Homo sapiens: one gene and its partners. The protein of the gene in region 4 interacts with the protein of the main gene of each other region in a pairwise test. Each region holds a gene or a part of one and is shown on either strand. Other genes may lie near its edges.

The links.
Region 1: the proteins of JPH3 (region 4) and SMARCB1 interact in binary tests that used the Homo sapiens proteins (3 or more experiments, as listed by UniProt).
Region 2: the proteins of JPH3 (region 4) and CENPV interact in binary tests that used the Homo sapiens proteins (3 or more experiments, as listed by UniProt).
Region 3: the proteins of JPH3 (region 4) and MYBPHL interact in binary tests that used the Homo sapiens proteins (3 or more experiments, as listed by UniProt).
Region 5: the proteins of JPH3 (region 4) and PNO1 interact in binary tests that used the Homo sapiens proteins (3 or more experiments, as listed by UniProt).
Region 6: the proteins of JPH3 (region 4) and PCSK7 interact in binary tests that used the Homo sapiens proteins (3 or more experiments, as listed by UniProt).
Region 7: the proteins of JPH3 (region 4) and RNF138 interact in binary tests that used the Homo sapiens proteins (3 or more experiments, as listed by UniProt).

The regions. Positions count from the first base shown.
Region 1 is NC_000022.11:23,824,966-23,829,289, forward strand, and holds part of SMARCB1 (SWI/SNF-related matrix-associated actin-dependent regulator of chromatin subfamily B member 1), read left to right. Parts: intron 1-259; coding exon 260-450; intron 451-4,324.
Region 2 is NC_000017.11:16,346,619-16,350,942, reverse strand, and holds part of CENPV (centromere protein V), read left to right. Parts: intron 1-913; coding exon 914-1,012; intron 1,013-2,257; coding exon 2,258-2,327; intron 2,328-4,324. UniProt on the Homo sapiens protein: Required for distribution of pericentromeric heterochromatin in interphase nuclei and for centromere formation and organization, chromosome alignment and cytokinesis.
Region 3 is NC_000001.11:109,291,313-109,294,710, reverse strand, and holds the end of MYBPHL (myosin-binding protein H-like), read left to right. Parts: intron 1-461; coding exon 462-472; 3' UTR 473-505; intron 506-1,705; exon of another isoform or gene 1,706-2,122; 3' UTR 2,123-2,346; downstream 2,347-3,398. UniProt on the Homo sapiens protein: Myosin-binding protein which plays a role in cardiac function. Seems to regulate conduction in the atria and ventricular conduction systems.
Region 4 is NC_000016.10:87,682,508-87,686,007, forward strand, and holds part of JPH3 (junctophilin-3), read left to right. Parts: intron 1-1,634; coding exon 1,635-1,759; intron 1,760-3,500. UniProt on the Homo sapiens protein: Junctophilins contribute to the formation of junctional membrane complexes (JMCs) which link the plasma membrane with the endoplasmic or sarcoplasmic reticulum in excitable cells.
Region 5 is NC_000002.12:68,156,002-68,160,932, forward strand, and holds the start of PNO1 (RNA-binding protein PNO1), read left to right. Parts: upstream 1-1,886; 5' UTR 1,887-1,933; coding exon 1,934-2,140; intron 2,141-2,378; coding exon 2,379-2,528; intron 2,529-4,931. Other genes in the region: DNAAF10 (dynein axonemal assembly factor 10), read right to left, coding at 1,260-1,442. UniProt on the Homo sapiens protein: Part of the small subunit (SSU) processome, first precursor of the small eukaryotic ribosomal subunit.
Region 6 is NC_000011.10:117,207,673-117,211,996, reverse strand, and holds part of PCSK7 (proprotein convertase subtilisin/kexin type 7 preproprotein), read left to right. Parts: intron 1-2,943; coding exon 2,944-3,100; intron 3,101-3,932; coding exon 3,933-4,027; intron 4,028-4,261; coding exon of another isoform or gene 4,262-4,315; exon of another isoform or gene 4,316-4,324. UniProt on the Homo sapiens protein: Serine endoprotease that processes various proproteins by cleavage at paired basic amino acids, recognizing the RXXX[KR]R consensus motif. Likely functions in the constitutive secretory pathway.
Region 7 is NC_000018.10:32,108,586-32,112,909, forward strand, and holds part of RNF138 (E3 ubiquitin-protein ligase RNF138), read left to right. Parts: intron 1-3,168; coding exon 3,169-3,334; intron 3,335-4,324. UniProt on the Homo sapiens protein: E3 ubiquitin-protein ligase involved in DNA damage response by promoting DNA resection and homologous recombination.

The DNA of each region.
Region 1 (4,324 bases), on a different chromosome or scaffold from region 4:
CTCAGGTGCCCCCGGGGTCACTTCAGGGCCTCCCGAGGGTGACTGTGCTGGGCCCTGAGCCAGAGCCCCTCATGGCAGACAGGGTTGTGGGGTCAGCCTTGTTTTGGGGATGGGGAACTGGAAGGACAAGGACCACCTGCAGTTCTCAGCTGGTGGACCCTGGTGGGCAGGGCCCACCCCAGGCCTGGCAGGGCCCCGCTCCTCGCGGCCTCCCTGGGCTGCAAAAGCTCTAACTTGTGTCCTTTGGTTGTTGCCTCAGCTGAACATCCATGTGGGAAACATTTCCCTGGTGGACCAGTTTGAGTGGGACATGTCAGAGAAGGAGAACTCACCAGAGAAGTTTGCCCTGAAGCTGTGCTCGGAGCTGGGGTTGGGCGGGGAGTTTGTCACCACCATCGCATACAGCATCCGGGGACAGCTGAGCTGGCATCAGAAGACCTACGCCTTCAGGTAGGATCATGCATGAGTCTCTCCCTCCCTCATCTCCCTGCAAAACTGTTTTGAGAAAGACTTCTCTGTGTGAGCGGTGATACCTTTGAGGCTTTCTCACGCTTCGCAGCACAATCTGGCTGGGGTCTGTGTGTTTGCTCCGTCCTCCTCCTGCCCTATGTATCTCTCCAGGGCTCCGCTGTGCCAGGTAGGGTTAGAAGCACCTAACACAATAGCTGGCAAAGACTTGGAGTTCTGTCAGGGTGAACCTCAAGTCCTTGCCTCCACGGAGCCCTGGCCTGCCCCCACCATCCACCATTCAGTTGTCCTGCCCCACACCCTCTCTCTCTGCTCTTGCCCAGACTGTTATTTTGGTCAGGGTGACCCCTGCCCAGGGTTCTTCATCTGTTGAACTTGAATTATGTCTTAAACACAAAGGCCCGCCCAGCTTTTGAGAGTCAGGGGTCCCTAGCAGCTCCTTCTTACTCTAGTATCTCTGCCTTTGGTCAGTCAGAGAGCATTTGATGAGTACCATGCTGGGCTGGACCCCATCCTGGCTGCCCTGGAAGATAGAGACAGGTCACCTTGATCCCTGCCTGTAGCATTTGGGCTGGCTGAGATGGTGGAAGTGTGAACAGAATATTCCAGTCCAGTGTCCTCTGTGGTAGGGATGGGGATGGACCCGGGAGAGGCCCTCCTGTTCCTGGCAGGAGGTGGGACTCAGAGTTAAAAGTGAGGTCAAGGCCCAGTGCGATGGCTCACACCTGCAGTCCTAGCACTTCGCGGAGCTGAGGTGGATCACCAGAACCCAGTAGTTCAAGACCAGCCTGGGAAAAACATGGTGAGACCCCACCTCTACAAAAAAAAAAAAATAGAAAAAATGAGCCGGGCATGTTGGTACATGCCTGTAGTTTCAGCTACTCAGGAAGCTGAGGTGGGAGGATCGCCTGAGCTCAAGAGGTGGAGGCTGCAGTGAGCCAAGATCACACCACTGCACTCCAGCCTGGGTGACAGAGCGAGACCCTGTCTCCAAAAAAAAAAAAAAAAATAGCGAGGTTGAACTCTCCCGGCTCAGCAGGACTCTAGGACTGGGAAGCCCCGTGGTTCCTCACCCTGTCCTCTGTGTTGGGATGGGGTGGGGGTGCAGCAAGCATCCCTACATCAAAACAGGATGTTCAGATTTAGTCTGCTCATCAGACTATCATCATCCACATCTGCAGTCATCACTCAGGGATGACAGCTTAAAATGCTACATGAGGAGCAAATAGGAAGGTCTGTTTTGCAAAGCCATGACAATTAATGGAGCTCGTTAGGTTTGTGTCTAACTTGTTTTCCCAGACATCCCAAGAGACAGCTTTCTATGACTTCCCATAAATCTGAGCAAGGAAGAAGGAATGAGAGCCACCCACGGGGCTCAAGGGCCCGGGCCTGGGAAACAGCTGAGTCCCTGCCTGAGCGCCATGGTGCTGAGATCCTGTGACCTGCCCCCCAGCAGCCCTGCCAGTCACATGGTTCTGCTTCACAGACAGGGCAGCCCAGAGAGGAGGCTGGGGGGCTGGTGTCTGATGCCTCCCTGTTCCCTCGGGGTGTTGCCTGGGAGTGCAGCTGTAGCGTGCATTCACCCTGCACAGAGCCAAGCCCTATGGCCGGAGAGCCAGTCAAGGGTGGCCTCCCTCCACCAGAGTTGACTCTGAGGCCCCGGGAGGCAGTCATGTTGCGCGCATCAACACTGAGCACCTCCTCCCGCAGAGGCTGATCCAGTCAGAACCCTCGTCTTGGGCTCACAGGTGCAGGTGGTAGGCTGGCTGCCCCCAGCATCCAGCCCCTACGGTGTTGACCTTCACCTAGTCCTGCAGCCGCTGCCAGTGCCCACAGTCCAGGGTCAGGAACTGAAGTCCCCGGGGCCTCTTGACAGGTCCTTGCAACATCCCTTCTTTCAGCCACCATGGCACCATCCCTCCTGCTCTGACCCGAAGGTGACCTGAGCCTAAATTCCTTTCCAAGTTCCGGGCCCTCTGCAGTTTGCAGAGTGGCTCCAGAGCAGACCCCCTGGGGAGTCCCTGGTGGTGGCAGGTCAGGATTTAGAGGCAGAGGCGGGCCCCTTCTTTATCTCATCGACCACTTAGTGCATTCCAGTTGCAGGGCCTGGGGGCATCACAGACCCCCTGCCCCCTGCTCTCTCTTATGCTGAGAATGCAGGTTTCAAATCTTTGGGGTTAAAGGCAAAGGCCATCCCGCTGGGACCAAGGTGAGCACACGTCCCTATCACAGCAGCCAGATGGAGAGGCGGCCTGCCTGGGGAACTGGGAAGTGTCCTGAGTGGGCTTTTAGCATCAGGAGGGCTGCGTGTGTCTTCCCAGTCCCCACACTGGAAGACAGCTGCAAGGATAGGACAGGGCCTTAGGGTTGGGCTGTCATCCCTGACTCCAACTCGCGTTCCCCCCACTGTACCACCCCACCCCATGGGATCTTAGGAGGGACTTCGTTTAACTCTGTCCCCAGGGAGACCAGTGTCAGTCCTGCCTGGCCCTGCCTGGGGAAAGGAGGCTGGGCCACTGAGTCCCCAGGTCCAGGGGCCAGTCAGCCCACAGAGAGCTAGACCAGGAGTCCTGGCCTGGTCTCTGCCACACAGAAAGCTTGGCAACTGCTGTGTCACATGACTTTTTGTTTTGTTTTGAGATGGGGTCTCGCTCTGTCGCCCAGGCTGGAGTGCAGTGGCGTGATCTCGGCTCACTGCAAGCTCTGCCTCCTGGGTTCACGCCATTCTCCTGCCTCAGGCTCCTGAGTAGATGGGACTACAGGTGCCCGCCACCACGCCCAGCTAATTTTTGTGTTTTTAGTAGAGACGGGGTTTCACCGTATTAGCTAGGATGGTCTGGATCTCCTGACCTTGTGATCCACCCATCTCGGCCTCCCAAAGTGCTGGGATTACAGGCGTGAGCCACCGCGCTCGGCCACATGACTTCTTAAGAAGGGTTTTCAGGCTAGGCATGGTGGCTCACGCCTGTAATCCCAGCACTTTGGGAGGCCGAGGTGGGCGGATCACCTGAGGTCAGGAGTTAGAGACAGGCCAACATGGCAAAACCCCGTCTCTACTAGAAGTAGAAAAATTAGCCAGGTGTGGTGGTGGGCACCCGTAATCCCAGCTACTCGGGAGGCTGAGGCAGGAGAATTGCTTGAACCCGTGAGGCGGAGATTGCAGTGAGCTGAGATTGCACCATTGTGCTCCAGCCCGACAGAGCTAGACTCCATCTCAAAAAAAAGGGTTTTCAGCTCTGGACCTAGGTCACTCCATAATGGAAGCACTCGCTGATTCCCCAAGAGCCAGTCCCTCCATCTCTCCCAGCCAGAGCTCAGTGCCTGACTTCCATACCCTCCTCGGCAGTGGGGACATTGATTGGATCCATGGTACAGTGGGGCAAGCTGCTGGCCACAGGACATGTGTGTGCAAGGCCACTATGCCCACACCTCAGGGGAACCAGGGCAGAGAACAGCCTGTTCCCTTTGGCAGTGGGACAGACAGGAGACAAGCATGAAGGGGAAACAGGGGCATGTGACAAACTGGTCAGAAGCCCTAGGCTCCTAGAGGACAGACTGGGACCAGAGTGACACAGGCGTCCCAGAGCCAGTGGAGTGGGATGAAGGGCCAGCGAAAGGAGGGAGACAGGGCTCAAGGGGAAGGAGGCTGGGCTAGGCAGAGCCTCTGAGGAGAGCTGATCCTGCAAAGTTACTGGCACCTCCCCTGGGCCAGCCCTGTGTTCCTGGCCAGGGACGGGAGGAGACAGTGCCCTGTCTGGCAGAGGAAACAGATTCATGTGCATGACTATCAGTGTGCCATGGCCACAGAAAGCACCGGAGGCTGTGGGCATGAGGAAGGGCAGTTGGGGGCATAGAA
Region 2 (4,324 bases), on a different chromosome or scaffold from region 4:
AAAAATTCTATGTAATGTGTATTACAACTATGTAAAACGCATGTGTATGAAGAATACTGGAAAGAAATAGAGCAAAAATATAAGAGCCTTTATTAAGTTTCTCAAAAGGCTCTTCTGGACCTCTGGACTTGATTGAGTACACAGTCTTATTTTTCATAGCAGCCTGTACCTCCTTTATCACAATCATAATTAATTATTATTTGAGTAAATTGTTAAGGTCGGTAAGGGTAGCAATCGTGTCTGCTGTATCTTGTTTAGTGTTCTCTCCTTCGTGCCTAGCTCATAAAAATATTTAGTATTTGAGGCCCGGAGCAGTGGCTCACGCCTGTAATCCCAGCACTTTGGGAGTCCCCGTGGGTGGATCACAAGGTCAGGAGTTCAAGACCAGCTTGGCCAAGATGGTGAAGCCCTATCTCTACTAAAAATACAAAATTAGCAGGGCGCGGTGGCAGGCGCCTGTAATCCCAGCTACTTGGGAGGCTAAGGCTGGAGAATTGCTTCAACCCAGGTGGCAGAGGTTGCAGTGAGCCAAGATCGTGCCACCGTACTCCAGCCTGGGCAATAGACTGAGACTCCATCTCAAAAAAAAAAAAAAAAATTTAGTATTTGACATATAAATAAAAATGTCTGGTGGTGGGTTAGGATCCCTCACATTTTCGAAATGTTTGGAATGTTTTATTTTGCAACTTAATATAATTTAAGAAATTGGTGAAAAGAGAGCTCATGGACAAAGAAGGTGCTGAAACCATTCTTCACTTAGGAAATTGACAGTGCCTCCTTAAAAGCAGAAATGCATCTGGTTGTCATGTAGAAAAGACTTTTGTCTAATCTTCTGTCTTTCTTTCAGCAACAAAAAGAGAGCAGGAGGCAGCTATTCAGAAATTATTATCTTTCTGATTTTTGTTTCATTTAGTGAATACCAGGGCCTGGTGAAGCACACAGGAGGCTGCCACTGTGGAGCAGTTCGTTTTGAAGTTTGGGCCTCAGCAGACTTGCATATATTTGACTGCAAGTGAGTATTTTTTTTTCCCTAAATTGGCTTAAAAGAATTTCAGAGTTAAAATGCAATATTTCAAAATAATCTGGGGAGTTGGGGTACAGAGGAAACATTGGCCTTGGGCTGGTAACTGTTGAAGTCAGGTGATGGGGACAGAAAGGTTCATTGTTCTATTTTTGTTCCTTTTATATGGCTCATCACAGAGCTTCAACAGCATGGCCCAGGTGACACAGAGCAGGGTCCTCAGGGCTTGTGGCTTGTGGCAGCATCACCCTCAGACTGACACTGCTGAGGAGCCGGGGGCGGTTAGCTGCAGGTGTGCCTGGCTGGGTACTGAGTGGAAAGCCTTGGGCAGAATCTTCATAGAAGTCTAGAGTTGGGGAGAGTTGGAGGGTATGTTAGTAAAGGGTGTATACACCTGGAGGCTCCCCAGGCCCTCCACTCTCGCTCTGCTCTTCGGTTGAGGCAGATGGCACTGCTGGCTGTGGAGGGCCTGATTTGTACCACCTTCCCCGGCGTTATGATGGAGCAGGGACGACAGGCTCTGGCTTTGGGACCCAAAGTTGGCATGCAGCTAATTATTTAACAGCATCCAGTCCTTTTTGCCCCTAGGTACCGGAATTATATATGAATAATAAGCACATACGATGGAATTACTCAAATGGAGAACTGACCAGGCTACTAACAATAGAGTCCAGATTGGAAAAGAAGCACTGTGGAATAACTTGTGAGAGGATTCTGTGCTAAATTAGAACTTTTTCAAAGGTGGCCTGAAAAGAGGGGACTTCAGTTTAATTCCAGAGATGGTAATTCTGGGGACGTGTTTTACTTGGAGCTGGACTTCTTGTGACGTGGTGATGAAGAAAGAGGGAAACCTAAACTTCCTTGTCCATTTTTGGTGTGGATGTCTCAGAGACATCAGGTTGTAGCAGTGTCTGAAATTTGTTTCCTAAGTGTCTCTGAAGTCCAGCGCTTCTCTTCACTGTAAAGAACTGAGGGGTGGGCAGTACAGACCTGTCTGTTGGTCCTGTGTTCTGAGCATTGCAGAACCTCGACTGCTGACTTGGGACCCCCCTGGGCTCTGCTGTACCTGCAAACCAGAGGCACTGCTATCCAGGCCTTTGCCCCAGCTCCTCGGCCCTGGATGGTGCTGAAAGGGGCATCATCTGTGGGGTCGGCTGGCTCTCATGGCTGGGCCGCTCAGGCATAGAGGATGCAGGTGGCTGCTCACAATCTGGAATTTGCTCTGTCTTTCTGTAGTTGCAGCATTTGCAAGAAGAAGCAGAATAGACACTTCATTGTTCCAGCTTCTCGCTTCAAGCTCCTGAAGGTCAGTGCTTAAGAGCAGGGTCAAGGAGTGCAGAACCCATTGGTGAGATTTACAGGACCCCCCACCCAACTGTTAGCATGCCGTCTGTAGCATGGGAGGGGCCTGGAGCATAGCAGGGCCTCTCACGGGCTTTGGTTTCAGGTTGACATTTAAAAGGTGGGCCCGGCACAGTGGCTCACGCCTGTAATCCCAGCACTTTGGGAGGCCAAGATGGATGGATCACCTGAAGTCAGGAGTTGAGGACCAGCCTGGCCAACATGGTGAAACCCTATCTCTACTAAAAATACAAAAATTAGCTGGGCGTTGTAGTGCATGCCTGTAATCCCAGCTACTTGGGAGGCCAAGGCAGGAGAATCACTTGAACCTGGGAGGTGGAGGTTGCAGTGAGCCGAGATCACACCATTGCACTCCAGCCTGGGTGACGAGTGAAACTCCATCTCAAAAAAAATGAAAATAAAAAATAAAAGGTTGTGTTATTTTTTACCTTTATTTTTTGGAGGCCTATTTGGTATTGTGGAAACATTTTCAAATTCAGAGAATCAAAAAACAATAAAATCACCCAAATCCTGTCAACTAAAGGTAACCACTGTTAATATTTTGGTGTCTGTCTTTGTGTATTATTTTCTACTCTGAGAAATACATCTAAACCTATTGTCTTATGTTTATTAAGTAGAATTTTACCATTCTTTTTGTTGATAAACTGCTTATCTCATTTCCCAATGAAAAGCTTATATACTTATTTGTAACTTTAATTTTATTATTTTGGGGAATTTTTTGTACTTGGTACAAAATTTGAAAGGTAGAAGAAAATGTGTATATACACAGTGAAAAATCTTTCCCTACTGTCCCCATGCCCCAGTCTCCCTCTTCCCCACAGCCGATTTCCTGGTCTACTTACCCCATCACTGTCTCTGCATCATTGCAGTTGAGTCCCGTTTTTTTCTGATTATCAACAACACTGGTGAACCTCCTTGGTATACATTTTTGACAATTTAGAAATTTCTTCTTTAGGATCAATTCTCTTAGAAATAAGTTCTCTGGCTATTCTGGGCACACTTCCTACACCCTGCTCTACAAGGAGCAGTTAAAAAAAAAGAGAGAAAGAAAATCTCCAGGTTAAAGAATACAGATTTTTTAAAAAAGACTTTTAGCACATTATGGGTAATGTGGGGTTGGGCGGGGCTTTAATTCCATCCAGATAATGCTGGATGGCTTGGGACCACTTGGCAGTCCTTCGCTGCTTTTCTGTGCTGCAGTGGCTATGGAGTGAGCAAGGCTCCTCAGGGAGCTATTTCTATAGGAAGCACAATTCTGGACGGTATGGCTGGGGAAGCGTAAAGAGGGTTAACAAGGATAAGAAACCTCCACCCCTTCCCCTTCAGCTGTCTGATTTCTCTCCCTAAAGGTAAGCCACTGTTTCTTGGATCCCTCTTCAAAGATACATATGCATATAAAAGCACATACAGGCCAGGCACAGTAGCTCATGCCTGTAGTCCCAGCACTTTGGAAGGCCAAGGCAGGCAGATCACTTGAGCCCAGGAGTTCAACACCAGCCTGGACAACATAGCGAGACCCCCATGTCTACAAAAAATAAAAAATCGGCTAGGTGTGGTGTTGCATGCCTATAGTCCCAGGTACTCGGGAGGCTGAGGTGGGAGAATCACTTGATCCTGGGAGGTCAAGGCTGCAGTAAGCTGTCGTCATACCACTGCACTCCAGCCTGGATAACAGAGTGAGATCTTGTCTCAAAAAAACAAAACAAAACAAAACAAAAACACCACACATACCAGTATATAGCCTTAAAAAAAAAAAAAGAAATGGTAGCATACCACGTACGTTGTTTTATACCTTGCTTAACTTTTTTTTTGAGACAGTCTCACTCTGTTGCCCAGGCTGGAGTGCAGTGGTGTGATCTCGGCTCACTGTAACCTCCGCCTCCCAGGCTCAAGTGATTCTCCTGCTTCAGCCTCCTGAGTAGCTGGGACTACAGGTGCCCG
Region 3 (3,398 bases), on a different chromosome or scaffold from region 4:
TGTTTGTCAGGCTTTATTTCACTTCCCCTCCGGTTTATTTATAGGTAATATTGCATATCCTCTCTACTTCCTTAAAGTATTTAATCACTTATCTATACCTGTCACCTTGTTCAGATCTCTATCATTGTGTTTAACATACTGTTTTATAATTATCTATTTATAGATATGTTTCCCTATTAAATTATAAGCATTTTGAGGGTAGGGACATTGTCTTATTTGCCTTTGTCCCCCCAGTGTCTAGCCCAGTTTCTGACACACAGTAGGCACTCTAAATGTTTGTTGCATGGATCAAGAATGAATGAGCCCTTACATGTCCTGTTCTTCTCTATGTATAGACTACCTAATTAGCACCATTGACTCCCCAAGAACCTGAAATAGAATATTCCTTTCTAATGCTCTGAAAGAAAGTTTCTCAGAGATTTCTGAGATGTTAACACTGAGAAATGTCCGAATTATTACAGTTCCTAATTGAGGACACCTAAGAAGGCATGGTACTCTGACAAAGGTAAGTAAAGAGAGGCAAGATGTCTCACTGGATTACTTCCTGTTTATGGCTAGTGTTGTTGAGTCAGGGACAGAGGTGCATTCCTGAGCCTTTCAGTCATGTATCCACTGGTGGCCACTTTTGTTGTAACCATTTTTTTTTTGAAATGATGTCTTACTCTGTTGCCCAGGCTAGAGTGCAGTGGCGCCATCTTGGCTCACTGCAACCTCTGCCTCCTGGGTTCAAGCAATTCTTGTGCCTCAACCTCTCGAGTAGCTGGGATGACAGGCGCCCGCCACCATGCCCGGCTAATTTTTCTACTTTTAGTAGTGATGGAGTTTCACCATGTTGGCCAGGCTGGTCTCGAACTCCTGACCTCAAGTGATTCACTCACCTCGGCCTCCCAAAGTGCTGGGATTACAGGTGAGAGCCGACATGCCCAGCTGTTGTAACCATTTTTATATTTATTTATTTATTTATTTATTTTGAGACAGAGTCTCGCTTTGTCGCCCAGGCCGGAGTGCAGTGGCGCTATCTCGGCTCACTGCAAGCTCTGCCTGCCGGGTTCATGCCATTCTCCTGCCTCAGCCTCCAGAGTAGCTGGGACTACAGGCACCCACCACCACGCCCGGCAATTTTTTTTTTTTAGTAGAGACGGGGTTTCACTGTGTTAACCAGGATGGTCTCGATCTCCTGACCTCATGATCCACCCGCCTTGGCCTCCCAAAGTGCTGGGATTACAGGCGTGAGCCACTGCGCCCAGCCTGTTGTAACCATTTTTAAAAGCGATACTGTCATCCCTGTGGAGAGAATTTATAGTAGATGCAGTCTGCTTTTGTCATATCCTCTCTATGTCTGCACTCCTCAAGTCGATGGTAGGAATTAAACCTAATGAATGGTCCTCTGAAGAAGAGTGACAGCATCCACCTAATCATAAGGAGATTCTGTGGGAGGGAGCTGAGCAGGTATTGTAGGAAAAGATGTCAAGGGAACAATTCAGAGTGCAGGAACCCACAAGAGTCACAGCACCTTGTGCCTGTGGGGTGTGTAAGGACAGGGGAGGCTGCTCCTGCTGACTGAGTAAACGCCTCAGGATCATGAGCATGGTAAAAAAAAATGGATTAATATATTTGTTTTTTACTTTGAAGCTTATGGATTCCTTCCCTTCCAAGAGAAGAAAATCCTCTTTCTCATTTATGTCAATTATAATTTAACCTTTAGGTGTGTGGTCCCAAGCAGCACATTATTGGCAAAAGACAGCTCAGCTCATCATTTAGAACCGGACAGCTCTTTTAGATTTTCCGTCATTCACATTAGCTATGTTGTGAACAAAGTGATGCATAAGGCGAAAAAGAAGCTTGAGACAGAACTAAAGAGAACAAGTTCCCAGTGTCCTCTCTGACTTGTAGCTGCTGGCTGATGGAAATTGGAAATGAATTTGATCCCATAAGACATTTATTTAAGGCTCTCACTGGTATGTAGCAAATGAAAGCCTAAAGGGGTGCGTTACAAGTACAGACTTCTCAGGAAAGCGCTCTCCGACAGTCGGCTTGCAGAGACAACTCTCCCTCCCTCACCTCCCTCTCTGTGTTAATGATACTTGTGTTCGTGTTAGTTGCCCCTTTCCCTCTCTCACAGCCAGTGCCCAGCAATGAAGTGAATTCATGGCACAGGAGCCAGGGACCGTGACAACGGTGCCCTCAGCAGCCTGGTGTCCTCTGGCCATTTGCTGTCATGGCTACAAAGTGCTCCCTCTTTTCAGTGCCTCCAGGAAGCCCGCCAGTGGTGAGACTGTGTCCTCAAGGAGCTTCGGCACCATGTCTGGTTTGGATTCATCTAAATAAATATGTGGTTCCCCAGTGCCTACGTGTCCCTGTATTTGAGACTTTCTATGAAACATTTGGAAAGTTGCCATCCTTTAGCCAGGCTGTAAGGAACCACAGGGCCTTAAGACTCCCCTTTATCTTCCCACAACCACATTCGCTTCCACAGAGGTTTCTAACACTGTCCTTTTCCCTAGACATCTACGACACAACTGAATTCAACCCTCCACAGTACTAAGTGCTGGAAAGAGATGCCGAAGATGACTTGCTCTCTGCCTCTATGGGCTTTCCAATTTAAGTTGGGATAACAGGACGCACATCCACCACAAAGAGGCAAACAGCAGAACACAAACATGCACATAGCTAATTATAGACAGAGCCCCAAGACCTGAGGGCTGGAATGATACTCAAGAAATTGGAGGGCTGGGCAATGTGGCTCATGCCTGTAATCCCAGAACTTTGGGAAGCCGAGGCGGATGGATCACTTGAGGTCAGGAGTTCGAGACAAGCCCAGCCAACATGGTGAAACCCCATCTCTATAAAAATACAAAAATTAGGCTGGGCATAGCGTCTCACGCCCGTAATCCTAGCACTTTGTGAGGCCGAGGCAGGCGGATCACTTGAGGTTAAGAGTTCAAAACCAGCCTGGCCAACACAGTAAAACCCTGTCTCTACTAAAAATACAACAAAATTGGACAGGTATGGTGGCGAGCGCCTCTAATCCCAGCTACTCAGGATGCTGAGGGAGGAGAATCGCTTGAATCCAGGAGGCGGAGCTTGCAGTGAGCCGAGATCATGCCACTGCACTCCAGCCTGGGTGACAGAGCAAGACTCCATCTCAAAAAAAAAAAAAAAAAAAAAAAAGCAAAGTATTTGGAGCAGAGTCTCATTAAACCCAGGAAAAGAATAAAGGTGAGGTTCCCTTGATTATCTTTGTTTTCATTCTGATGACAAATAAGATATTGAAGGTGTTCTGTGATAGAATCTGCAGAAGATGATAACAGTTCCTCCTATCTTTGTATGAGCACGGTGCTCCTCTCATCAAGAGTTGGAGTCTATTTCCCCTTCCCTTGAATCATGTGACTTGCTTT
Region 4 (3,500 bases):
AGAGAGCACCCTCGCTTCTTCTACCATGTGAGCACCCAGCAGGAAGGTGCTGTCCAGGACCCAGAAAGTGGGTCCTCTGCAGACACCAAATCTGCTGGCACCTTGATCTTGGACTTCCAGCCTCCGGAACTGGGGGAAAGCAATGTCTGCTATTGATGAGCCGCCCAAGCTGCGGTGCTTTGTTGCAGCCCCAACAGGCTAAGTCAGGAACCGTGAACAGGAGACCTCCCAGGGAGTCTGCTCGGAGGGGGGATTTGTCGTGGGGGAATTGGTCATTGTGCCTCAGTTTCCCCATTGTTGGGGAAGTGGTGCCCATGGCCACTGGCAGGCCCCCCCGGGGGCCAGCACACCAGGTAGGAAGAAATGCAAGCCCCAGGCTGCTGAGATGCACAGAGCCCCACATTCTGCCTTCGGGACGTCTGTCTAGTCCCTTGTCTTACAAAGGGTGGGCAGGTCCCCTGCAGGACTCAGCAGAGGGAGAGACACAGTCAGGGAGCGGCCAGAGGGGTGACGTGCCCGGCTGCCCACAGGTACAATGGCTCCTTCGTGTCACACATGGGTGTCGGCGTCATCTTTCGGCTGGGTGAGGGAACTGCCCAGCTGCCCAAGCCCTGGGTTCCCAAGTCAGAGTTGCTGGGATTACTGGGCAGGGAGGTGGTCCCGCAACCCACACCGGGGCAGTGGCAGGAAGCACAGACACACACAGCACAGCGGGCCGGCACCGCCGGGGTGGGTTGTCTGGGCTTGGACTCTTTCTGTGCACATGCTGATGTTTGTTGATAATAAGAACAGAAACATTTTCTTTTTTTTTTTTTGAGATGGAGTCTTGCTCTGTCACCCAGGCTGGAGTGCAATGGCGTGATCTCCGCTCACTGCAACTTCCGCCTCCCAGGTTCAAGCAATTCTCCTTCCTCAGCCTCCTGAGTAGCTGGGATTACAGGCACGTGCCACAACACCCGGCTAATTTTTGTAATTTTTAGTAGAGACGGAGTTTCACCATGTTGTGCAGGCTGGTCTTGAACTCCTGACCTCATGATCTGCCCGCCTCAGCCTCCCAAAGTGCTGGGATTACAGGCGTGAGCCACTGTGCCCAGCCCCTCCCCTTTTTTTTTTCCTTGAGACAGAGTCTTGCTCTATTACCCAAGCTGGAGTGCAGTGACGCGATCTCAGCTCACTGCAACCTCCACCTCCCAGATTCAAGCAATCCTCCTGCCTCAGTGTCCCGAGTAGCTGGGACCACAGATGCGTGCCATCACACCCAGCTAATTTTGTATTTTTGGCAGAGACAGGCTTTTGCCATGTTGCCCAGGCTGGTCGTGAACGCCTGAGCTCAAGCGATCTTCCTGCCTTGGCCTCCCAAAGTGCTGGGATTACAGGCGTGAGCCACCATGCCCTGCCCAGAGGTGTTTTCAAGCATGTCCTGTGCACTGGGCCTGGTTGGTTGATGCTCAGTGATGTTTATTGAATGAATGAATGAATGAACGAACAAGATCCAGAAGTCTGAGGGTAAACATGGGGTGCCAGCATCTTGTCTTAGCCCAGCCCGTTGTTGGGGGGTTGGCAGAGTACCTCAACCCAGACCCCTGTCACCTGTGCCCCCTGCCCCCCCTCACGCTCCTCCCTGTCTCCCCCAGGACCTCCCACTCTCGGGCAAAGGCCGAGGCAGCCCTCACAGCAGCTCAGAAAGCCCAGGAGGAGGCGCGGATCGCCAGGATCACTGCCAAAGAGTTCTCCCCTTCCTTCCAGCACCGGGAAAACGGTGAGTCTCGCCGGGCCTGATACTGGCATCGTGGGGAGGGGGTGCGTGGATGGCTGGGCAGTCCTGGCAGCAGATGTGTCCTCCAGAGCGGGTAGGCTTAGATGGGCTCAGCCCCAGCTGCTCCCCTGCCCGGTGTCTTCCTCTCCCGCCGAAGGTGCTTGTTTGTGCCAAGGCCTGGCCTGGCTCCCCGGGACACAGGACATGTGTCTTGGCAGGTCTCTCCCATTCCCACAGTCCTTGGGGCACCGCGTGTTGCTTGCCGGCTGTCCCTGACGGTGAATTCCCACCTGCCCAGCCTGTGCTGTCTGCTGCCCGCCCTCCCCCAGTGTTGTTCTAGAACCTTCTGGGATGATGGAACTATCTGCTGGGTCCAGCGTGGCAGCCATTAGCTGGGTGTGTCTGCGGTCCTGGCTCTTGACCTGCCTCTGATGTGAACTAACTTACCATTAAACACACCCAGTGGCTGCTGGGTTGGACAGCGTCACAAATGGCAGCTCCCGCTGTGCCCCTCGGAAAGAGCTGGAAGCTGCTGCCTGATTTAGGAACCTCGTCCTCCCTTCGAGGGGGGGATCATGGGTGATACGGCCCAGTGACAGTGGCGGGGGCGTGGAGGGTGTGGGGTGGGTGGCGGAGAGGCCGTGGCCAGCTGCCTCCCATCTCCTACCTCATCTTGGAGGAAGCTTCCTCTGCACCAGGAGGCCCCAGAGAATGGGGTTAGGAGCGCGCCCCCTCAACCCGAGCTCTGACCGGTGAGCGGTATTCGGATGAGGCTCTGCGCGCTGGAGGTCCGCACCTGACACCACAGCCCTGAACTTGCTCGCAACGCCTGCCACTCTGGCCACCAGGACAGGATGAGGAGCCCAGCCTGGGGGCTGCGGGGCTGGGCGCTCCCCTGACTGGAACGCGAGACCACATCATCTCTAGAGGTGACCGTCCGCCACCACTCCAAGACCTTGCCTTCACTGGGCGAGTGCCGGGCCCTGCAGAGCCTGCAGCTGCAGCCTGGAGGTCAGGAGGACGAGCCCCCGCACCCCCACCGCCTTGGGCAGCTTCTATTCCACTGCGTCCCCTCCACTCTCCTGGCCCCTCCAGACACACGCACCCCAAAGTGTCCAAGTGGGAGGGCAATGGGCCACGTGCCCCTGTGGCCATTGGCATCCTCCATGGTCTCGCCCTCAGGCCCTGAGTTTCCTTCTCCCTGGGGCCCCTCCTTGCCTCGCCCACGACCAGCTGCCTGGGCTGGGAGGCGGTGGGGCGCACACTTGGGGGCACACGTGTAGCGTGCACGTGCATGTGGGGAGTGGGTGCAGTGCTGCGGGATGGACGAACGGAACAGGGATGCTGGAGAGGAAGCCAGTGCCGTCGGGGGCACCTGCCAGAACCCTGGCTGGGCCACTCCACGCAGAATGCACGTAGGACGGCATGGGATTCCACGTACCAACCCTGGCCCATGGTCGCCTCAGCTCCAGCCCTGCCTGCGACTCACATTCCACTGCCTGCGGCCTGTTTTGTTTCCTCTCAGAGCCTCAGTTCCATGTGTGAAAGGAAGGGGACCAGACAGGGAACATTGAAGCCTCCATCCTGTGCCAAATCCCCCAAGAGACGCATCCACCGGAAGCTCCCAACGTGACTTATTTGGGAGGAGGGTCTGTGCAGGTGTCATTATGGAACAGACTTTGAGACAAGATCAGCCTGGATTGGGGTGAGTCCTAGATCCACGCGGCGTCCTTAGAAGAGACAG
Region 5 (4,931 bases), on a different chromosome or scaffold from region 4:
CCCAGCTACTTGGGAGGCTGAGGTGGGGAGGCGGAGGTTGCAGTGAGCTGTGTTTGCACCACAGCACTCCGGGCTGGGTGACAGATTGAGACCCTGTCTCAAAAAAAAAAAAAAAAAAAAAAAAGCCACTGGTTACCAGAAGCTAAGTGATGAACAATACAAGGAACGAAGGAAAGGTAGAAAAAAATAAGCCATGTTTCATGTTTGTCATTCAGGGAAACTTAAAGCGGGATGGGGTCTTACATACTTTCTATTCTAGGCTTAACAGTCCAAATTGTATTCATCCTTTATCTACCAGTTTAATCCCTACCTCCTCCAAGCAGATTCTCTCCATAGGTTTTGATCCCCAGAGTTAACCTACCCTGCACTTGTAGTCTATTACAACCCTGATCTGATAATGACTGATCATTTTTTCAGGTAACAAAATCAACACTTTTTAAAAACTATAAACAGCTATAAAATGCTAGTTACTATCATTATTCTCTAATTCTTTCACTAGTAATCTTCAAAAAAACCTTGCAAACCTAATCTTTCCACACCCTGCTTAAATCCTTTCAGTTGTGTCCGTTTTTTCTTAGAAAAAAGGCATAAATCCTTTGAATGTCCTACAGATCTTGCAATGTCTGGTTCCTGCTTATCCCTCTAGTTTCTTAAGGAGATAAACTTCTTCCCATCACTGAGCTTCTGCATGTGCAGAAGCCCTGGAAACCTTGTCCTTTACTCCTAGTTTGACCTAGTTAGCTTCTGCACATACCAAAATCTGTTTTCATTCATCCCAAATCTGTTTTCACTCTCATTGAACCGTAACCGTGTTCCTTTGTGTGAGACAACTCATCTCGGTTTGTATTTATGTATCGTTGCTTTGATTATTGAACTGAGTATCTCTCCCACTAGAAAATAAACTCCATGAGATGGGGGACATTACCATTCACATCCCTGGGAATACCAGGCACTCAGCTGATGCCTGTCGAATGTGTTAGGTTGCCTCTTCCAACCACACTGCAGGCATCCTGGTGCCCGCTTTGGCTGGACTGCACTGGGGGTGGCAGGACGGTTGGGCGCGGAGGAACTACCCCGCGGATGAGAAGAAAGGTTTTAAATAGGAAACATTCCTCAGTCGGCGGTCAGCTTCTCTGGTCTCGCGCGGCTCAAGCCATGCTTTGGGGGACGCTGGGCGAAGGCTCTGGCAAAGAGGAATGCAGACCCCAGGATCCGCACTCGCCCCCAACGGCAGTCCGGATCCTCGACCCGGCACCCACCTCCCGAAGCAGCTTCAGGTCCCCGTGCTGGATCTCGTACAGCTGAATGACGCCGGTGCCCCGTGCGAAGTTGCCCATGGTCACAAATTTGGCGCTGCAGGGCACCCACTTACAGTCAAACACCGTGTAGTTGAAGCCCTTCTGGATATGGGCGATGATCTGAGGCTTCTCGAAGGCCGACATGGTGCAGCCAATTTCAGCTACGGCAACCGCCACACCCAGAGCCCCCAAAAACGGCAACCTGGAAACCAGACTCCAAACATTGGCAATTTGTCCCTCCCGCTTTCCGTATTCTGCCCCAGATGCCCTGGCATGTTGGCTGTAGTTATCCCCGGATAATGCCAGATGCGCTCCTGCGATCGCACAGAATGTTCCTTCACAACAGCACGAATTTGTTTATCGCCTTTACCCACTGCCTTTCGCACACATACATACTAGAGATTACAAAATACTTGGGCTGGGAGTTGCGCGGCTGGAGTGAGCCCAAGACCATCAGGCATATCTTAGGACAGCCTAACCCCGTTTTCCCCCCCACCGGCCCCAAATCCTGCAGGTCCCCGGCCTGTGACGTTTTAGGAAAGGGGCGGAGCTGCAGGGGTGGTTGGCTGAGGCTGGCTTCTGCGTGGTGCAGCTGCGCACGTGTTTCAGCCGGCAGCGCTTTAAGATTTCCGGGGATGGAATCCGAAATGGAAACGCAGAGCGCCAGGGCAGAGGAGGGCTTTACCCAGGTCACCCGCAAGGGTGGCCGACGGGCGAAGAAACGACAGGCTGAACAGCTGTCCGCAGCAGGAGAGGGCGGGGATGCGGGCCGCATGGACACAGAGGAGGCCAGGCCGGCGAAGAGGCCCGTCTTCCCACCCCTCTGTGGGGACGGGCTCCTGGTATGTGGCTGGGACCCTAGGACAGCAACGAGGCAAGGGCCAGACGCGGATCAAGCCGATGGCCTCTGGAGAATGTTGAAGCTGCGGTGGGGCTGTTCTGCCGTGATGCTCAGAGAGAAGTGATTCTTTGAAGTGTAACTAGTTCAGTTAAAGGAGGCCCTTTGTGGATCAGATGTCATTTTAAACTCCATCACCGTCCCTCCATAGCCTTCTGAGTTGTGTGTTCTTTTATTTACAGAGTGGGAAAGAAGAAACAAGGAAAATTCCAGTCCCAGCTAACAGATACACACCATTGAAAGAAAACTGGATGAAGATATTTACTCCTATTGTGGAACATTTGGGACTTCAGATACGCTTTAACTTGAAATCAAGGAATGTAGAAATCAGGGTAAGGAAAATCTCAATCATTTCCCAATACACCAGGCTTTCTCTCCTACAGAGATGAAAAGGCATGAATAGGCTTTACTTAATGGGACTTTTCTGTTGTATGGTTTTTGTCCAGTTTAAAAATTTACCATATTGAGTTTGAACTTCCCAAATGCCTTAAAAATCTGCATTCGATACAAATATTAATTGAATTTGTAAATTAGTTCTGAGATCACACCAAAATACTGGCTCTTCTTCTGTGTATCTTTTATAATGTTCTATGTCAAATTGAGAAAAGGTCGAGTAAAGAGATTGCCATAAACAGAAGCAGGTAAATAATGAATATAAGCACTTGCTGCTTTACAAGAAGTATATACAGTCAGCGTCGGGAATATGTTCTGGGATATGTTTTGTCAGATGACTTAGTCCTTGTGCGAATATTATAGAGTGTACTTACACAAACCTAGATGGTATGTGTATATTTGTTTATATATTTTTTTCATATGGAAAACCAAATGTCCCAGCACCATTACTGAATATCAGTCATTTCATCTACTTGATCTGCATTGCCGGTATCCAGTGCCATATATCAGGTTTCTGTATATTCTCCATTATACTGTTATGAGACCACCATGGTATGAGCGGTTGGTCACTGATCAAAATGTCATTATGCAGTGCATGACTGTGTTTTAATGGTGCTCTTTTGATTAAAAAATGTATTATTTTGATAAGAAACATGCATATATATGTGTGTGTGTGTGTGTGTGTGTGTATATATATCTTTTTATTTTGCTCTTTCACCCAGGCTGGAGTGAGTGGCATGATCTTGGCTCACTGTTAACAGGTGCCTGCCACCAAACCTGGCTAATTTTTGTATTTTTAGTAGAGACTGGGTTTTAGCATGTTGGCCAGGCTAGTCTCGAACTCCTGACCTCAGGTGATCACATCTCGGCCTCCCAAAGTGCTGGGATTACAGGCGTGAGCTGCCCCACCGAGCCTATGTATATATTTTAAATTCTGTGCTATCAATCCGGGAATTAGACATTTAAATTTACTTTGGGCTTTCTTTTCTGGGTGCCAATTTCATACCAGAATCGATAACCGAAATTAATTATATTTTCCTTTTTAAGGATTCTTTTACCATCATCCGGACTGGTATAGTCTCATCTCTGTTAATGGAATATAATAATGGAACAAAGAAAGGCACTATTCTAAATAGTTGATAAAGTGTAAAATATCATAGAACATGATAGAGTAACTCCTCTTTGTCCCTGTTGCCATTCTCTCATTCAGGCTTTTATGGTTTCCTGCCAAGGAGTGGTTTCGTTGTAGGTTTCCCTTGCTTCATTGTTTGACGTCTCTCCTTTCTCCACTCATCCATCTGCCAGTGCCAGATTAAGTTTCCCAGATCACAATGCTTTTATGACATCCTGGCATCTTCAAAAAACAAAAAAAAATTTTTTTTTTTTTTTTTTTTTTGAGATAGAGTCTTGCTCCGTTGCCCAGGCTGGAGTGCAGTGTCGCAATCTCGGCTCACTGCAAGCTCCGCCTCCTGGATTCATGCCATTCTCCTGCCTCAGCCTCCTGAGTAGCTGGGACTACAGGCACCCACCACCACGCCCGGCTAATTTTTTGTATTTTTTAGTAGAGACAGGGTTTCACCGTGTTAGCCAGGATGGTCTTGATCTCCTGACCTCATGATCTACCCGCCTCTGCCTCCCAAAGTGCTGGGATTACAGGCGTGAGCATCTTCAACATTTCTAAAGGAAAAAGTTTTGGACTTAACTTGCTTTTCAAGTAGGAGACTCAGTCACAAGTTTGTCTCTCACGGATCATAAAGTTTGTTTATGTCCATACTTTTTGGTGGCTTTGGCCTTTGAAAGAGGTCCGCTCCTCCCTACTCCTTTCTCTTTATACTTCAGTTCCAGTATCTTTCCGGGTCTAGCTCAAGTTCTTTCTCTGTTATGGTATGTCCATTTTTCAGTCATATCTTCAGTGCCTAAACTTTTCATGTGCTTTATTGTCCTATTTATTGCAGGATAATCACTTTGGATTCCACTAACATTTGTTGATGCTGCCATATACCAGACACACAGTGGTATTACACCATGCTCTACATCATTTAGTCTTCAGGATATTCCCATCTTAAAGATGTGAGGAAACTTGGCCACAGTCATCAGTCTAATAAGGGAAATTTTCTATTATACTAGTAGGGAACACTCAGGATCTTCTACTCTGACCTCCTCATTTTACTGATGAGAAAACTCAAGACCTAAAGTATCTATGGGACTTGTCTAAGGTCACATATAGGATTGGAACTAGGGTCTAGTTTTAAATGGGAAAGCTCTGGGGACTCTCCCATTGCACAAGCCCATATGGTTTTACATTTGTTGAATACGTGGTCTCTTCAACTAGACTGTGAATG
Region 6 (4,324 bases), on a different chromosome or scaffold from region 4:
GAAAAGAAATAATATCTGATACATATGTAGCCTTAACATTAGCTAGGTACCATTCTGAACGCTTTAGGTATATTAACTGTTTAATCCTCGTCTCAAACCTATGAAGTAGGTACTGTTACTGGCCCCATTTTACAGATGAGGAAACAGTTCTCACAGCTAGTAAGTGGCAGAGCTGGGATTAGAACCCAAGCTTAGTGGCTCCAGAGCCCATGCTCTTAACACTGGTAGGTGGCAGGAAGTGAAGAACTGAGAAAGGGTTTATTTGTTTTTGTTTTTCATTTGTAGTAGGAAAGGTGCTAGCAAAAAGGTCTAGCCAAGAAGATGGATAATCAGGCTGAGCCATTGTTTGACTTTTGCCAAGTATTGCTGTGAAAGGACAAGAAAGTGAAGGGAGCTTGAGAATGTAAACACACATGTTGGATGAGCCATGGAATCTCAGCCAGTTAGGAGAAAGGAGCTTGAGGGGTTGTGGGAAAATGAGGGGGTCAAGAAGAGAGTGGGGAAAGTGGAAGGAGAGAGGTTGTTTTCAAAGAAATGGGACATTGGCTTTGAAGAGGTGACAGATGGAATTATAGAAAATGAGGCTGGGTGTGGTGGCTCGTGCCTGTAATCCCAGCACTTTGGGAGGCCAAGGCAGGCAGGTGGATCACCTGAGGTCAGGAGTTCGAGACCAGCCTGGCCAACACGGTGAAACCCCGTCTCTACTAAAACTACAAAAATTAGCTGGGCGTGGTGGCATGCGCCTGTAATCCCAGCTACTTGGGAGGCTGAGGCAGGAGAATTGCTTGAACCCAGGAGGTAGAGGTGGCAGTGAGCCAAGCATCTAGCCGCTGCACTCCAGCCTGGGTGACAGAGCTAGACTCCGTCTCAAACAAACAAACACCCCTGTCCTTGCTCAGTCATCTATAATAGCTCTTAGTTGCTTATTTAAAACAAAAATCTTTAAAGCGCATCCCACCCTAGGTTACCCAGCCCCTACTTTCAGTGCCTCTCTGAGCTACTGTGTCTGTAAAATCAAGGTATTGTACTCTGCCTTGCATATTGGAATAATTTTTTTTTTTGAGACAGGCTCTCACTCTATTGCCCAGGCTAGAGTGCAGAGGCACAGTCATGGTTCACTGCAGCCTCAACCTCCTGGGCTCAAGCCATCCTCCCACCCTCAACCTCCTGAGTAGCTGGGACCACAGGTGCTTACCACTATATCCAGCTAATTTTTTATTTTTTTGTAAAGATGATGTCTCCCAGGCTGAAGTTATCCTCCACCATGCCTGGAGTGAGCCACCATGCCTGGCCTGGAATAAATTAATGGAAGAAAGGGTGCTTTAAAAAGAATTGTATTCGGCCGGGTGCAGTGGCTCACGCCTGTAATCCCAGCACTTTCGGAGGCTGAGGCGGGTGGATCATAAGGTCAAGAGATTGAGACCATCCTGGCCAACATGGTGAAACCCCATCTCTACTAAAAATACAAAAATTAGGTGGCCATGGTGGCGTGCACCTGTAGTCCTAGCTACTTGGGAAGCTGAGGCAGGAGAATCGCTTGAACCCAGAAGGCAGAGGTTGCAGTGAGCCAAGATCATGCCACTGCACTCCAGCCTGGCAACAGAGAGAGACTCTGTCTCAAAAAAAAAAAAAAAAAGAATCGTTCTCATTACAGCCTAATTTCTTAATAGTCCCCAGTTGAGTCTTCCTCTTCAGTAGTTTTTTGTTTTTGTTTTTGTTTTAATAATTGTAGATTTACAGGAGGTTTCAAAGAAATGTACAAGAGAAGTCCCGTGCACCCTTCTCCCAATCTTAATGTTTCACACAATTAAAGTATAATATCAAAACCAAGAAATTGACATTGGTACAATCCATAGAGCTTATTTGGAGTTCACCAGATACACATGCTGTCAATATTTGTGTATGCGCGTGTGTAGCTGTATGCAATTGTATCACATGTAGCCTTGCATAACTACCACCACAACCAAGATCCAGAACAATTCCATTATCACAAGACTCCTTTGTGTTACCCCTTTCTGGCCACACCCATCCCCTCCCCTGTCCCTGGCCCCTGGCACCCATTTATCTGTTATGTATCACTGCAGGTACTTCAATTAACATCACCTAAATGGAATTGTGTGCTACGCATCCTTTTTCTTTTTTTTTTTTTCTTTGAGACAGGGTCTTGTTCTGTTGCCCAGGCTGGAGTGTGGTAGCATGAGCATGGCTCACTGCAATCTCCACCTCCCAGGCTCAAGCGATCCTCCCACCTCACCCTCCCCGGTAGTGGGACCACAGGTGCACACCACCACACCTGGCTATATGCTTCTTTTGAGATTGCTTTTTTCACTCACATAATTTGCTTGAAATTTATCCACCAGCATTTTTTAAAAATTAACTGTGCATCATCTTCAGTGAGATGTGTGCATTTCGTCTTTGTTCATGCCTTTTCCACTGCCTAGAATGCCCTCTACCAACCCTGTCTACCGATCTGTATTCATTTCCTTCAGTGTGTCTCACTGCTGTGTGCCTAAACCCATCTGACTTATTTCTCTTCCCTTATCAATTATGTATATTTCCCATACCATATCATTTTCCACTTGCAGGTAGGAGGCAGGGACCACGCCCATCTTATCTTTATATTCCCAGCATCTAGTACAGTGCCTGAAATGGAGGAGGTACCCAGTAAATAATGTTTTGGATGAATGAATGATTGAAGTTGCTCTGCTGGATTCTTATATTGTGTCTTGGGTATGTGTCGTCTTCCCAACTGCACTCGAAGCTACGTTGTAAACTTGAGAGCAGCAGCTCCATTCCATTTACTAGTATAGGCGAGGTCCCAGTTAGGGTTGCCGTAGATGTTTGTATGTGGCTTCAGTGAGCGTGTGTCTTTGTGTACGTGGGGGTGAAGTGAAGGCGTGTTTGTGGGCTGGTTTCCCAGCTGCCCAGCCTGACTTTCTACAGTCAGCAGGATGGACCTGGAGATGTCAGGGCTGAAGACCCTGGAGCATGTGGCAGTGACAGTCTCCATCACTCACCCACGGCGCGGCAGCTTGGAGCTGAAGCTGTTCTGCCCCAGTGGCATGATGTCCCTCATCGGCGCCCCCCGCAGCATGGACTCGTATGTACACCCGCCCGAGGCCTGAGCAACCTTTTCAGCAAGGGCCTTTCCAGGGAAAAGAAATGGAAGAAGTGGATCCTGGCACTGTCCTAAACTACTGTGGCACTGGCTATCCCTGGCGGCTGGAAGCCTTTCGTCACATACCTTCTTCAAGCGCTAGGCCCTGCACCTCACATACATGTTCTCTAATCCTTCTAAGAACCCCCTAGATTAGACTTTGTAACCTCCTTTTACAAATGAGGAAACTGGCTGGGTGTGGTGGCTCACACCTGTAATCCCAGCACTTTGGGAGGTCAAGGCAGGAGAATCACTTGAACTCAGGAGTTCAAGACCAGCCTGGGCAACAAAGTGAGACCCTGTCTCTACAAAAAATTTAAAGATTAGCTGAGCATGGTGGTACATGCCTGTAGTCCCAGCTACTCAGGAGACTGAGGTGGGAGGATCACTTGAACCCAGGAAGTCAAGGCTGCAGTGAGCTGTGATCATGCCACTGCACTCCAGCTTGGATAACAGAGTGAGACCCTGTCTCCAAAAAAAAAAAGAAAGAAAAAGAAAACAAGTCATGGAGCTAGTAAGTGCCCAAGAGAACAAGAATAAACCTAGATCCGTGGGACTCCAAGCCTGTGCGCGCTCCATGCTTGCTTTTTCCACCACACCACGTTAACACAATTTCCTCCTTCCATGAGACCCCAGGGGAAAGGGGCACCTGAGAAGCCCTCGTGGCACCCTCCCAGGTTGTTTCCACGGCTACTACAGTAAGAAAGTGTTGCTGGGGGAAGGTCAGCTCTCTGGCCCACGCCTTCCACCTGTTTCTGCTGTGTTCTTTCCTCAGGGATCCCAACGGCTTCAATGACTGGACCTTCTCCACTGTGCGATGCTGGGGGGAGAGAGCCCGAGGGACCTACAGGCTTGTCATCAGGGATGTCGGTGAGTCTCGTGCCCTCACACCAGGCCCTACCTTTCCTGCTTGTTATCTGGTCCCTCTGCATCTCAGAGTCCCCACAGAAAGTGTCCCGTGTGCAATATATAGGGTTGCCATTGGACCAAGAGAGTTGATGCCAAGAGTGTGCCCATCCGTGAAATGGGCATTGCTCTCTGCAACTGTTCATTTATACTACCTCTCATATTCCCTGGAGGAGTGACCCATCCATCTTTCCTCAGGATAGCAACAAAAAGTCCTTGTCGAAACCACATTTCAAGTCCTTTTACGTATAACCATCCTTC
Region 7 (4,324 bases), on a different chromosome or scaffold from region 4:
ATAGTTTTCAGTTTGGGGCTATTATAAATAGTGTGGCTATGAACTTTCTAGCAAATTTTTTCTGATTATATATGTAATTTTTGTTTTGTTTGGTTTTTAAATAGATGCAGGGTCTCACTCTTGCTCAGGTAGAAGGGTAATGGAGTGATCATAGCTCACTGCAGCCTTGACCCCCTGGACTCAAGCAATCCTCCTGCCTTAGTCTCTCAAGTAGCTAGGACTACAGGCATGCACCACCGTGCCCAGCTAATTTTTTATTTTTATTTTTAATTTTTTTACAGGAGCAAAGTCTCACTATGTTGTCCAGGCTGGCCTCAAGTAATCCTCCCGCCTTGGCCTCCCAAAGTGCTGGGATTATAGGCATAAGCCACTGCCCATGGTTTTATGTATATAGGTTTGATGGGTATATACTTCAGAGTGGAATTTATGCGCTCTAATGGATATTGCCACCCAGTTTTCCAAATGGTTGTAAAAGTTTATACTCCCATAGCCTCCAATGTGAGTTTAGGTTGGTTCATATCCTCCCTAACACTTGGTATTTCCCACCGTTTTCATTTTTGTCTTTTTCTTTCTTTTTTTTTTTTTTTAAACAAGGTCTCACTCTGTTGCTCAGGCTGAAGTGCAGTGGCACGATCTCAGCTCACTGCAACCTCTGCCTCACAGGCTCAAGTGATCCTCTCACCTCAGCCTCCTGAGTAGCTGGGACTACAGGCATGTGCCACCATGCCAGGCTAGTAGAGATGGGGTTTCACCATGTTGCCCAGGCTGGTCTTGTGAGCTTAAGCCATTTGCCCCGCTCAGCCTCTCAAAGTGCAGGATTACAGGTGTGAGCCACTGTGCCTGGCCATTGTTTTATTATTACTATTTTTTTAGAGACAGGGTCATGCTGTGTTACCCAGGCGGGCCTTGAACTCATTGGCTCAAGAGACCCTCCCACCTCAGCCTCCCAAGTGGCTAAGACTACAGGTACATGCTGCTGTGCCCAGATTTGGTTACTTTTACTATTTTTAAAACTAGTTTTGCTGGGCACCATGGCTCACGCCTGTAATCCCAACACTTTGGGAGGCTGAGATGGCTGGATCACTTGAACTCAGGAGTTCAAGACTAGCCTGAGCAACTGGCAAAATCCCATCTCTACAAAAAGTACAAAAATTAGCCGTCGCAGTGGTGCATGCCTGTAGTCCCACCTACTGGGTAGGCTGAGGCAGGAAAATTACTTGAGCCCTGGAGGCAGAGGTTGCAGTGAGCCAAGATCGCACCAGTGTACTCCAGCCTGGGCGACAGAGCGAGGCTCTGTCTCAAAAAAATAAAATAAATAAAACTAGTTTTTAGTTTGGCAAGTGAAAACTGGCATCTTGTTTACTTTGCGTTATTTTGGTTTCTGGCTATGGTAAATATTTTTAATTGTTATTGTTTTTTGAGAGACAGTATTGCTCTGTCACCCAGGCTGGAATGCAGTGGCACCTTCATAGCTCACTACAGCTTCAACCTCCTGGGCTCAAGTGATCCTTCGCCTCAGCCTCCTGAGTAGCTGGGACTGGACGTGCATGCTACTATACCCAGCTAATTTTTTTTATTTTTAATTTTTGTAGAGACAGGGTCTTGCTATGTTGCCCAGGCTGGTCTTCAACTCCTTGCCTCAAGCTGTCCTCCTGCCTTGTCCTCCCAAAGCACTGGGATTATAGGCATGAGCCACTACGCCCTGCCTAATGTTTTAGTTTATGGTGTTAATTGGTAATGACTTCTAGTGCTGCTTTAATGATATTAACTACTATTTATTGAGCACTTTCCTGACCATGACAAATAATGTGTTAAGCATTTTATACTTGTTATCTATTTTAATCCTCTGAACAGCCGAATCAGTTGTAGATACTTTTATTATTTCGTGAGTGAGGAAACTGATATTAGAGGGAAAAACTGACTTGTTTAAAAGTGCTGCATAGTTAGGAAACTCAGGTTATGTGATCTGTTACTGCACCATTTCCTCTCAACTTCTGTTAGTATAGAGGAGGAATATTCATATATATTTATAGGAGATTGGATTAAATGTATATGTATTCTAGATCCCAGATATATATGTCTGTAATTTAACTGGTTCTCTTGAAAGCAAAATGATCAAATAAGGTATTTGGTGGGGCTAGAGAAGATAAAAAGATTTTAGTTTGATTCTAATTAGAAAGTTGGTTATAAATGTTTAATCTTTTTTTTTTTTTGAGACGGAGTCTTGCTCTGTCGCCCAGGCTGGAGTGCAGTGGTGCAATCTCGGCTCACTGCAACCTCTGTCTCCTGGGTTCATGCCATTCTCCTGCCTCAGCCTCCCGGGTAGCTGAAACTACAGGCGCCTGTCACCACGCCCGGCTAATTTTTTATATTTTTAGTAGAGACGAGATTTCACCGTGGTAGCCAGAATGGTCTTGATCTCCTGACCACGTGATCCGCCTGCTTCAGCGTCCCAAAGTGCTGGGATTACAGGCGTGAGCCACCGTGCCCGGCAAAGCCGGAAGTATTCTTAAGTATTTCTCAAATTATGTTCCATTGCATACTGTTTGGGAAATTTCCCTACTTCCGGACCAAATAACCAAATATCTGTTAACACGCAGATAACTTTGGGTAACACCTAACTTTGGGTAAAACCTATTAACTTTATCCTAGAACTTCCCAAACCAATTTGTGTGCTCTTTTGTAGTAGACCTGTTTATGTCTTGTGGAACAACATGTCGATATACATCAGTTTGAGACAAAAGCTTATGTTACTCATCCTTTTATTTTGTAAGGGGAGGAAATGGAGATCCAGTGTGCGTTAATTTGTTGGCCTAAGATTACACAGCTACTAAATGGCAGAGCCAGGATCCGGTTTTTCCTTTGTACCATGCTTCCTCTAGTAATATTATTAATATGTAGCATTAATATTTATTCATCATATATTATGTTAAGAAGTTGTAAAGCAGACTTGAGTGTAATTGTTCAAATATTCCCATCTAGTCCAGTTATCAGTCTTACTCTCTGATAAATACATATACAGTTACTAAACTTCTGAGATTTATGTACATATGAGTAGCCTAACTTATTTAATATGAATACATATTTATAATCACTTGTTTGTATTTAATTATAGAGATGAAGAGAGTAATTTTTTTTGTAATTAATGTGTCACAATGTTTGGTTTAGTTTCTGTAGAAAATGTTTCCTGACTGCAATGAGGGAAAGCGGAGCACATTGTCCCCTATGTCGTGGAAATGTGACTAGAAGAGAGAGAGCATGTCCTGAACGGGCCTTAGACCTTGAAAATATAATGAGGAAGTTTTCTGGTAGCTGCAGATGCTGTGCAAAACAGGTAGAGTAAATGTGACATCTCTCTTCTTTGGAAGCCAAGTTTCTACTCTGAAATTCTTATTTGAATTTTCTTGGTTGGTGTTTTTTTTTTTTTTGAAAAGATGAAAGGTATTTAGACTGGGAATTGGATAGAAAAGGCCAAAAAAAGCTGTGGTCATAGATCTTACTAGATTATAAACTTACTGAGAAATGAGACTGAAAAAAAAATCACTGAATTTCATAATACTTAGCGTGGCATTTTTCTAAAAGTAATTTCTCATTGATTACTTGCTAAAGTAACTAAATTAGCAAGCTGGCATTTAGCTCATTTAAACCCCATTCTGGTACAAATTCACCCCTTAAGTTTTTCTCATGGTAGCATCATTATTGCAGCTTTACACATAGAAATGTTACTAGTTTGGGCACATGGATTTATGTAGTTTAAGGAACTCTCTAGCTCCTCACTTTACTTATGTATTTATGTATGTATTTAAGAAATCACAAGGGCCGGGCATGGTGGCTCATGCCTGTAATCCCAGCACTTATGGGAGGCCAAGGTGGGTGGATGACCTGAGGTCAGGAGTTCGAGACCAGCCTGACCAACATGGTGAAACCCCGTCTCTACTAAAAATAAAAAATCAGCCAGGTGTGGTGGCGCATGCCTATAATCCCAGCTACTTGGGAGGCTGAGGCAGAATTGTTTGAACCTGGGCGGCAGAGGTTGCGGTGAGCTGAGATTGCGCCATTGCACTCCAAACTGGGCAACAAGAGCGAAACGCTGTCTAAAAAAAAAGAAGAAGAAAGAAATCACAAAATATTTGGTTAATTTTAAGGAACATGTAGGAAAATCAGGTGTTAACAAATAACCAGCATTAATTCTCTAATCTGGATTTTATTCTATCATTTGGAGAAGGAATAAAATAGAGAGGGGTGGTTAGGCTTTGAGTATATCCATGTGTCTATAGATTTATCACCGACATTTTTTCTAATAGCTAATGAATTCAGTGAGCAA